Linked DNA regions of Homo sapiens: region 2 is linked to region 1. Evidence: fine-mapped QTL for protein levels in blood plasma. A gene starts in region 1. The other region holds a variant in brackets. All regions are shown on one strand. Distances are from middle to middle.

Region 1 (5,362 bases):
TCTAACCACACCATCCTACCCTACCTGGCCTGGTGGTTCTGAGGATTAAGGGGAATAATGAAAGTTCTTAGGGCCATGCTGGGCATACAGTGATGAGCCAACAGAGGCTTGGGGACTGGGAGAAGGCAGCAGGCATTTCTTCCCATGGGGACTCAGGCTGGACCTCGCCCAACTGGGGACTCAGCTAGACAGAGGGGAAGGCATACAAGCACAGGGGAAGCACTGGGAAGGTTGAAGATGTAATGAGGCCAAGGCATGCCCAAGAGAGCACAGGATATGTGCAGGAGGTGAGTCTGGGACCCTGAATGCAAACTAGAGAAGTCAGGATTTCTCACATAAACAGGCCATCAGAGGGTTTTTTTAGCAGAACCATTATATCATGAGCATTTTCTTCTTTTTTCCTTTTTTTTTTGAGATGAAGTCTCACTCTGTCACCCAGGCTGGAGTACAATGGTGTGATCTTGGCTCACTGAAAACTCCGCCTCCCAGGTTCAAGCGATTCTCCTGCCTCAGCCTCCTGAGTAGCTGGGATTACAGGTGCCCACCACCACTCCTGGCTAATTTTTGTATTTTTAGTAGAGATGGGATTTCACCATGTTGGTCAGGCTGGTCTCGAACTCCTGACCTCGTGATATGCCCACCTCGGCCTCTCAAAGTGCTGGCATTACAGGCGTGAGCCACCACACCTGGCCGATCACGAGCATTTTCAAAGGCATACAATCCCTGGATGTCTGTCCTTGAAGGAACCTTGACCTTGTTCCAGGCTTCAAAGAGAAAAGATTTCTGAAGGTCAGCCGGTGGGCTAGGGGCACAGCAGCAATGTGCTGCCATCCCGCCAGACCCCCTTCCTCTGCAGGCCTGAGCAATCTCTTGTTTACTCCTCTTTAATCTCCTCTCCCTCCCTGTCCCCTTGCCTGTGTCTGCTCCCTCCAATCTGTGGTTTAAGAGGAGAAAGCCCGGGTTTGAGTCCCAGTTCTGTCACCACAGTCTCCTGGTGAGGCCTCAGGCTGGGGTTGAAGGAGTCCTGGGTTTTAGTCTGGCTAACATGGTGGCTGCTATGTGATCTGGAGGATTCTCAGTTTCCATATCTTTATGATGGAAGCAGTAGTTCATTTCGCTGGGAGCGGGGTTCAGGGTAGTTAATGAATGAGAAAACACGTGCATAGAGTCCAAGACGCCTGGCCAGCCCAGGATAACCTAAACACCACCTCTGTGTGGGAAGAAAGTGAGAAGTGAGAGAATCAGGCAAACACGGCCCCTTCCTCCAAGGCATGTGGTCCAGAAGGTTCGGGGGGTGGGGGAAGCGGTCGACGCTTGGGACCTGTCCTCGGTACTGAAGGGAGCGCGGGGGCTGTGGACGGTGCTAGAACACAGTGCTTGTAAGTGCGGGACATCGTGGAGGAGGTGTCCTTAGTTTGGAAGGAGCTGGATTGTTGCTGGCTACCACGGGCCCCATCCGGTGTGCTACCCCCCCCCCATAATACTGGAAGGGGGGCGCTAAGACAGAGGGAAGACGGCGAGGGGCTATGTTCCTTGGTCTCTAACCTTGTTCTCAAACTTGGGCGCTGTACACACGGCTGGACGCGGGATCCACCTGTGTTCTGGAGTGGGGAGTGGGCTGTCGGAGGGGTTGACCCTGTTCGACGGGGACGGGGAAGAAAGTCTGAGGGTCTGTCCACGGTGTGAACCCTAGCATCAAAGGGCCAGTTGAGACGCTGTCCACGGTGCCCAAAGGATGGGCCCGGGTGGGGCGGGGGGCGGGGGGCGGGGGGGGGGCTGGCGCTGTCCTCCTCCGTGGTGCTGAAACCGGGAGGACCAGGCTGTGTGAGCAGGGAGGCCTGGGGAAGGGCAAGGGATGAGAGCAGGAGGGACCCCGCCCAGGAGTCAGGGGCCTCGCCCGACTCGCCGTGGGACCTCAGAGAAGCTAATTACCTGATTTCAGGCGCTTCCTTATCTTTTAAATGGGACCACAGTTCCGCCCTCCTGTCTGTCCCATCAGCCCCAGTAACACGGCTTGGGAAGGAACTGGAGGACTTTGTTGGATTCTTGCTCTTGGGAATGGGAATGGTGCCCTATCCCCCTCCCCTGCCACACTCACACACACATACACCCACGCATACGCGCGCGCACACGCACACGCACACACACACTCATGCACACACACACCATCAAGGCTCATTGGTCTAGGGAAGGAGCCTACAGTCCAGAAGGGGGCGATCCCATCCACCACATAAGGTCCAGTATCTTCAAGAGCCAGGAGCCGCAACAACTAACTGGCCTGTCTCTCTCCCATTACAAAGACTCGAAAACTGAGTCCCAGAAAGGGGAACACCGACAATAATAACTACTGAGCTCCTACCACGTAGGCAGCATTATGCTAAGCGCTTTGCATGCACGATTTCGCAAATCCTCACCAGGACCCCCGCAGACAGCTATTACCCCTATTTCTCAGATGAAGACTTCGAGGTTCAGAGAGGGGTAGACACCCGGACGCGATCACACAGCGAGCCGAGGTCGGCGGCAGAGCTATCACCAGGTCCCCTGGGTCTCAGCCCAGGCTCCCACCCTACCTCGCCCTCACCCCCAGCCCCACTGGCCCCTGACCCCGGCCCCGCCCTGCCGGTAAAGTTAGGAGCCTCTGAGTGCGCTGGCCTGGCGGCGGGTGCCCTGGCTTTTCTCCCTCTCCCCGCTGGACGGCATTTCTGTGGCTGAAGCCCGTTGGGTCGTGCTTTGCGGGAACCGCGTCCCTGGGGTGGCTCTCTCCGCCCCATCCCGGCCCCGCCTCCGCACTCGGGCGGGGGAAAGTTGCGGGTACCGCTTTAAAAATCCCAGCCTGGGCAAAACTTTGATGATAAATCAAGCGGCAGATCCCTCCGCCGCCTGCTCCGAGCGGGAGGAGGGAGGGGAGGAGGGAGGGGAGGAGGGAGGCGGGAGGAGGGAGGAGGGTGCGGCGGCGGCGCGGCGTGGCCTTCCGCGGAAGGGAAGAGTCCCGCAGTCGGAGGCGGCCGGCTGGGCGTGCGCTCGCTCCCCGAAGCCGGGGCTGGGCCGGAGCCGGGCGAGGGCTGGGAGCTGGGCCGGGTCCGGGGACAGCGGGCGAGGGGCAGCTGCCGGAGCCGGGCAGCCAGGCCGCTCAGGGCAGGGGACAGCTGGCGCCGGTTCTGCGGTCTCCGGGGCCCAGATGTGAGGCGGCGGCGCCCCCGGCCCGAGAGCGCACGATGGGGGCCCCGCTCGCCGTAGCGCTGGGCGCCCTCCACTACCTGGCACTTTTCCTGCAACTCGGCGGCGCCACGCGGCCCGCCGGCCACGCGCCCTGGGACAACCACGTCTCCGGCCACGGTGAGTTCGGTCGCCGCCCCCGCGGACTTCCCCACCAAACCCCAACCCGGGCCGCGCCACTCCAACTTGGCCGCCCCGGGGCTCGAACCGGCGCCAGTCGTGGCGGGCATCCCGGGGCGCCCCCTGCCGGCGCGGTGGACCCGCCCTGGCACCCTGGCCCTGCAGAGAAGGGGGCACCCGGGGCGCACCCCCGAACCTCCTCCCCACACACTCGCGCGGATACGCACACCTGCATGGCCACACCGATATGCACAGCCGCGGACACACTCAGAGCCACAGTCGCTGCTTTCTCACACTCACAACTCCTACCCTGCACATCTCCACACACCTCAGGTCCCCCTCCTCACTGCAAGCCTTTACACTTATGCCCACTACACACGCACATCAGGCACTGCGCCGGTGGGCTCACTCTGCCAGCTGGCGCACACGCTTCGCCACAACTCTTGCCTGCCCACCTGCAGACACACTGGTGCGCGCGCGCGCACACACACACAGGCACACACATACACACACATGAACACAATTTGCTCACCCACTCCTCTCTGCCCATCTGCCTTTACTCTTCTGGGTTTAACCGCACAGAGGCCCTTGTCCTCTTCCTCTCCACACCCAGCCCTATACCACTGGAAAGGTCCTTGGGGGCAGAAGACCTTGTTTCTTGAGAACTGGTCGCCTGGGGCTGCAGCCTCCCAGTTGGGCGGGTGGCACCTGGTGGAAGCCCCTCAGAGCCACCGGAGTAGTTGGGGTTGCTGCTTGCAGCCAGAGGCATGGGAGTGGGAGTGGAAGTGGAATGCCGGGTGCTTTTGTCTGCCTCTGGGGATGGGCAGGAAGCCGTGCCATCCTTCCATAGGGTACCCCCATCCTCATCCTCGGCCCTAGAGGACTGAAATGTGGGAAATCTCAACTCCAGCCGCTGTGGAAGCCGGGGAGCAGACAAGCATTCCCAGCACTGGCTGGCTGAGTGTCAGAAGCTCCTGCTAGCCCCGAAGGAGCCCAAGTTGGCAGCAGAGTTGGACTGTATGAGCCCGGCAGCTGTGGGGGCTCCCCCTGACCCCTGTGAGCCTGGCTCTGGGATGGAGGCTCGAGCATAGATGAAACCAAAGGAGACCTTTCTTCCATGCAGCCCTTCACTAGACAGGCTGACAGCCTTGTTGGGGAGGCTGCAGCCCCAGTGCTGGGCACTGTGGGCCCAGGGCTGTGGGGAGGTTTGCACAAAGGCCAGATAATTGGATGATTTATTCTGATGGGAGTGAGTGGGGGTAAGGCAGGGTAGATAATCAGGGAAGGTTTTGCTGGGGTATGACACATGAGTGGGATTGCTCCAGTGGAGAGGGGGGCTTCGAAGCCATCCTCAGGGTCTCTGCTTTTTGGGAACCATGACTCCCCGCCCCCTTCTGCCTCACCATGTTTGGTAGTAACTGCTGTGTGCATCATTTACATACCCTTCATGCCCCTCACCTCATTTCTACCGACCTGGCTAGAGCGGTGGTAAATAAGGAAAGGGTTCTTTTGATCCTCAACTTACAGATAGGGAAACCAAGGCTCAGAGAGGTGAAGGAAGTTGCCCAAGGTCACACAGTAAGAGAGTGACTGAGCCAGGACAGGCCCCAGGGTCTGTCAGGCAAAGACAGCGCTTTTTTCCAGGACATTCATCTCCCTGTCAGATTCCCTCCCATTCTAGGGAAACTGGGAATTCCTCCCTCTCCACCCCTCCTCTCCTCGCTCCGCTCAGTCCCTTGGCACAGTTGGAACTTACACTAGGAGGGGTTTCCATGGAGGGCCTTCCCTGAGTTTGCAGTCCCGAGGGGTATGAGGAATGGGACTCTGAGGCTTATGGTCGTTCTGTCCCTAGAGCACCAGACCCCAGGGACTTGGGTGCCAGTCTGTTATTCCCAAGGCCCCAAGGTGGCTCCCCCCCATAGAAAAGCAGGGTCTGTCTGCCCTTTGTGTGACAGTCTCTACCTGTCCCCTGGTGCCAGGTAAGCTGAGGGGGCACAGCTCTGCCCAACCAGCTGTAATCTCCCCT
Region 2 (5,362 bases), 29 kb after region 1:
ATAGCCATTACCTGCAAGTGGCTATTAACATTTATGTTTACATGAATTAAAATTAAATAAAATTTAAAATTCAGGTCCTCAGTCACATTTCAAGTGCTCAGCAGACACAGGTGACTGCTAGCTACTGTACTAGCTCAGTTACAGGACACCCTCCTCATGGCAGAAAGTCCTGTTGGCCAGTGCTGATGATGGCGTTGGAGGGAAGGGTGGTTTGAAGTGCCGGGTTTAAATGAGGTGGTCAGGGCAGGCCTCCCTAAGGAAGCGGACTTTGAGCAGGGTCCTGTGGCAGGAGAGGGAGGGAGCCATGTGAGGGAAGGCAGTTCCAGGGGAGTCTGAGGAAAGGGTGTTCCAGGCAGAGGAATCAGCAGGTGCAAAGGTCTTGAGGTGGAATCTCAACTGGGATGCCTGGGGAAGGAGCTGAAAGGAGGCCACTGTGGCAGGAGTAGGAGCAGGGAGTCAGGCAGAGGCCAACACTGGAGGGAATGGCCTCCCATGGAAGGCCCTGTCAGCCATCTGGAGTGCAGTGGTGCGTTCAAGGCTTGCTGCAGCCTTGACCTCCTGGGCACGAGCAATCCTTTTAGCTGGGCATGGTGGCTCATACCTATAATCCCAGCACTTTGGGAAGCAGAGGCAGTGAGGACTGTGGCTGTTACTGTGGGTAGGAGAACGCCCTGGGAGAGTGGTGAGTAGAGCAGGGACAGGGATGATTTATGTTTTGTCAAGGTACGTCTGGCTGCTGTGTGAAAATAGCTTGTTGGGGAGGAAGAGTGGAAGCGGGAGGCCAGTGAGGGTTCCCCACTGTTGCAGGTGAGAGAGGATGGCAGCTTGGCCCCAGGAAGGCAGTGGAGGTGGGGAGAAGGGGCCAGATTCTGGAGGTGTCGGGAGGCAGGACCCACAGGGTTCCTTGAAGACTGAATGTGGGAAGGGAGAGTGGAGGGAGGGAGCCCAGGGTGACTAGTTTCTGGGTTGATCCCCTGGAAGGAGGGGGTGGCCCTCACGGTGATGTGGGGGAGGGATCTTCCTTCCAGGTGCCTGCATTGCCTCTTACTTAGTGGGGATAAGAAGGGTCACAGCTTTGAAGTGGGCTATGTGTGATGGCGCCCCACACCATCCCTCGCAAATGTTCAGGAACTCAGACATTTATTCCTATTAACTAACCAGGCCTTGTTTACAGAACAGCGGCTGGGACTTCCAAGCCTCAGCAAGCGGGGAGCCTCCATGAGCTGCTTTCTAAACCCTTGACCTTGAGGATTAGGGACATCTCAAACTTGCTCTCAGCCCAGAAACCCACTGTTCAAGTAGGGCTGCACATGGAAACCCCATGAGCAGAGGAGAAACGGCAGAAGTTTCCAGATGGAGTCGTTTGTCAATTCGCATCACCTTCGGTATCCTGGGGACAGGGGGATGAGAGAGGTGGCCCCAGAGCAGGGGCCTGAATCTAGGATTTCACCTCCTAGCCCAGGACTCCCTCTTCCTCCTTCCCTAAGCTGAGCTGGGGTGGTGAGGACTCCCGGGGCTGGGAATCTGCCCCTCTGGGCCAGGGGACCCTGTTAGGTTGCAGCAGCCAGGAGGGACAGGGTGGGGGCCAGGGGATTGACAGCCACAATGTTCCTGGGTGACCTGCACGTTGCCAGGCGTCTTTCCAGGGCGATAATCTCTCCTGAGAAGAGGAAAGAATTCTAATTACATCTCAGGACAATATTTGTTTGGGGAGACGGGAGACAGAACATATGGTGGGGAGGGGCGCTGGGCCACATGAAGTGGGGATGTTTTCTCATTTACCTGGTGGGATGGAGGATGACGGATGGGGCAGGGCTCCTGCTGGGCCAGGGGAACCGTATGCCCTGGGCTGTGGTGGAGAGCTGGGCTCTGCATGGGGCAGGAGGCAGGAGTGGCTCCCACCTCACCCTGGGTGCCCTGAGATGGTGGAGAATTCCGTACCCATTCCATCCGCCGAGCAGCTGCTCTGCGCCCGCAACTGCCAGCGGCAGGAGCTCTGTGTCCCTGTCCTCCTGGAGCTGCCGCAGGCAACAGGGCAGGGCAGGAGGTGGGGGACCTTCTCGGGATCCTCAAGGAGGACCTTTCGGGGGGTGACATTTGAGCTGATCTTTGCCAGATCTGAAGGAGCCAGCCGGGCAAAGAGGGGTGGAGGGAAGGGCATTCCAGAAGGAGAACAGCCAGAGCAAGAGTGAGGCCAGAAAGGGAGGCGTGTCCACAGGACAGGGAGGAAGCCAGGGGAATGGGTGCTGATCCCCATACCTGGGGTCCCAGGGGAGGGTTCTAAGCAGGGGAGAGGCCACATCTGATTTGGTTTTGCAAAGATGGCGCTGGCCGCTGTACATGGATGCTGGAGTAACTCAGGAGGGGAACTGAGCTGGGTTACTGGAAGAACCTGGAAGAGCTGATGGAAGCGGCAGCTCCTCCCTGGCCTTCTTGCTGTCCACATCCAGCCCAGGCCTTCTCTGATCCCTGGCATGTTCTCCCACAGCGCCCGGCTGCTGGTGTGGCTCCAGGGCCGACACCTACTCCCTCATCGCCATCTCATGTTGGCTGCTGCACACACCCTTGGCCTGCCTTGCTGAGCTTCTTGGGTGCCCAGCTGAAGCCAGACCACTCCCACCAGCGGGCTTGCAGGTCACCCCACCCCCTCCACCCATCCCCCGCCGTGCAGGGCCAGCTGTTCCTACGTTCTCCACCTCCTTCACCCACTAGCCCCGTGGTTTCCTGAGCCCCGCCATTCTTCCCCCTGTTTCTTGCACAGCCCTGTTCACAGAGACACCCCATGACATGACAGCACGGACGGGCGAGGACGTGGAGATGGCCTGCTCCTTCCGCGGCAGCGGCTCCCCCTCCTACTCGCTGGAGATCCAGTGGTGGTATGTACGGAGCCACCGGGACTGGACCGACAAGCAGG[C/T]GTGGGCCTCGAACCAGGTAATGCCCCTGGGGAGATGCCCAAGCTGGGCTGGGGAAGTCCTGGTCCCTGGGGTAGGGGTATTTCTCTGCCCCTCTTCTCCTCTGAGGGATATGGGCTCCAACGCTGTTCTCCACACCACACAGCTGTCTCCCTCCCTTCTTCCTCCTGGGGTGGGGGTTTTAGGTGATCATGGAGGCTTATTTGGGGGAACGGGCAGGAGGCAGAGCTAGGCTGAGCACGTGAAATGGCCACAGCAAGGAGGGCCTTCCAGGGCACAGAGGGCCTCCCTTCGGGGTACAGGTGAGGAAACTGAGGCCAGAGGGACAAGCTGGCTTCAGGTTATGGAGCAAGGTGGGTCTTGTGACTCACTTCCCACCACTTCTCCGGGCCACACGGGCAGCCTTTTTATAAAGAGCTCTGCAAATGCTGAGTTCACTCACAGGCACACACGCATACGTGCACCAGGCTCCCAGCACACCCTTGGCTGCACATGTGCTCACCCCTCTACACGTGCATGCTCGTATGTACACACCTGTAGAGCAGATGCTGTGGGGGCTCTGCCCCATGCCTGGTGTGCAGCGTGCTCTGGGACCAGCCAACTGCCAGCTCCTCTGGCTCTGCTTGAGGGTTTTCTCTGGACACAAGAGCCTGCTGGCCATCAAGGCAAGCAGGAGGAGCAGGGGACTCAATAGGCAGGAGCAGCCCCCACCAATGACCCGCAAAGTTGGAGGATGAATGCCTCAGCTCCCTCGCCCTTAGCTGGGACAACCGAAGCATATTCTTCACTGTTTCACCAAGTGCCCAGTGGGACGAAGCTCCAATTGCCTACTGTGGTAACTAACCAACAACATACCCCCCATTATTAACTTTCTTCCCTTTTTCGTTTCACTCACCTTCTCCCCTACTTGTGTTTCCTGGGATCACCTCCCAAATAAACTACTTGACCTTTGTCTCAAGGTCAGCTCTTGGAGGAACTCCATCTGAATCATTTGCATCCTTACACATATGTATACACTAATGAACACGCAAACATAGAGATCTGCCCACCCATTCGTATATGAACACATATATCTGCACACATTCACAAACACGCATTGGCACACTCATACACTCCCCATGTTCATGAAAGAGTGTCTCACATGTGCCCAAGGGCATATCAAACTTTGTCTTGCTCCTGGGGGTGTCAGCTCCCTGACACTTCCAGCCCTGCCACATGCAGGCTTAGAGGACTTCAGTGGCCAGAGAAAGCCCTTAGGCAAATCGTTGCAGGTATCTGCGGTTGGAAGCTTCCAGGGTCAGTTTGCAAAGGTGGGGAATGTGGGCAGGGTTCCCACAGCGTCTGCACAGACGTTCACATGGGTGACACACCTGAAGGTACAAACACACTCTCAGAGTGACTCAAGGGTACAAACATGCTCCTAGCAACATACCAAGCCAATGCTTAGATTTCTGCCTGTTCACACTCCCTCCAATATATACCAAAGCACCCTTGTGTATCTAAATGCACAAATGTGGTCAGTTTTCTACATACCTCCATTATCTTCTTTTGCTCTGACCTCACCTCCTCCCCTGAGTGGATACAGAAAGGGACCCCAACTCCAGACTCCATGGCCCCCGAGCCTCATCTGCTGTCGTGAGAATCTTAGCGGTTGTCCGTATCCCTATAATGTGTCTCCCCACACTGCCACCCCACCCCCACCCTGTGCTAACACCTTGTCTCTGCTCTCTCCGCCCCTCCCCGATCCCAACAGCTAAAAGCATCTCAGCAGGAAGACGCAGGGAAGGAGGCAACCAAAATAAGTGTGAGTTTTGATAATGACTTCTCGAAAGGGCTCTAATGGAGGGCACAGCTGTGACTTAAAAAAAAATTGGGGTCCAGTTCAGCAGGGAGCTTGGGCAAGAAGATGGAAGAGAAGAAAAAGAGAAGGGAAAAAAATGGCCTTGCTCTGTTTTTTAAAAGCCGGAGATTTTTCAAGTTCATTCAATGATGGGCACAAAAAATGACAGGGGAGAGAAGATGCATTTTCTCCTGTCAGGGCCAAGGCTGTGTGCATCCTGGTGCCTTCGTGCTTGTCTCAGCAGCATTTTTTATTTGGGGAACCAATGAGGTCTGATGAGCCTGAGCCAGCTTTTTTTGGCCTATCATGACTGACTGAGTGTTACGCCATCTCAGGGTCACTTGGTGATCTGGCCCCGGGGACGGGGTGGGGGCACCCTAGCCAAAGGATTTCAGGACTGGCCAGGCCTTCTTATTTATTGACTCATTTGTCAATAGCCACACTCTGTAAGAAGGGCCAAGCATTCACCCATTTTGCAGGTGGGGCAGCTGAGGCTCAGGAGGTCAGGGACTTGCCAGAGGTCACGCCAAGGGTGACTGGTGTTGCTGAGCTACCTGGCTTCAGGGCTGAAGCTCTTTGTCACCAGGCTGTGCTGCAGGCCAGTGCAGCT

Alleles and levels. Positions count from the first base shown, and alleles are read on the strand shown. Strength reflects both the effect of a copy and how common the allele is.
For the plasma level of the protein whose gene starts at base 2,992 in region 1, T is the high allele of the variant in region 2 and C is the other (weak association).

What was found. PIP is the posterior inclusion probability: the model's chance that the variant is causal. The UK Biobank Pharma Proteomics Project read protein levels with antibody pairs (Olink). The fine-mapping took linkage between variants from a reference panel, not from the people measured, so its PIPs are less certain.
Region 2: its variant is fine-mapped to the plasma level of the VSTM2L protein (UK Biobank, PIP above 0.99). The variant lies in the coding sequence of VSTM2L. If it changes the protein, the assay may bind it differently, which can mimic a change of level.

What each region holds. Positions count from the first base shown.
Region 1 is chr20:37,900,136-37,905,497 of GRCh38, forward strand. It overlaps VSTM2L (V-set and transmembrane domain containing 2 like), which reads left to right and starts at 2,992. Exons shown (of 4, transcript NM_080607.3): 1 at 2,992-3,336. The coding sequence starts at 3,216. The region is part of intron 2 of LOC124904896 (a long non-coding RNA gene); the gene reads right to left. RefSeq lists an enhancer at 2,292-3,255.
Region 2 is chr20:37,928,874-37,934,235 of GRCh38, forward strand. VSTM2L (V-set and transmembrane domain containing 2 like) reads left to right here. Exons shown (of 4, transcript NM_080607.3): 2 at 2,762-2,931; 3 at 4,666-4,716. Among named protein-coding and RNA genes, the nearest start is that of VSTM2L, 28 kb to the left of the region's middle. The variant C/T (reference allele first, on the strand shown) is at 2,915.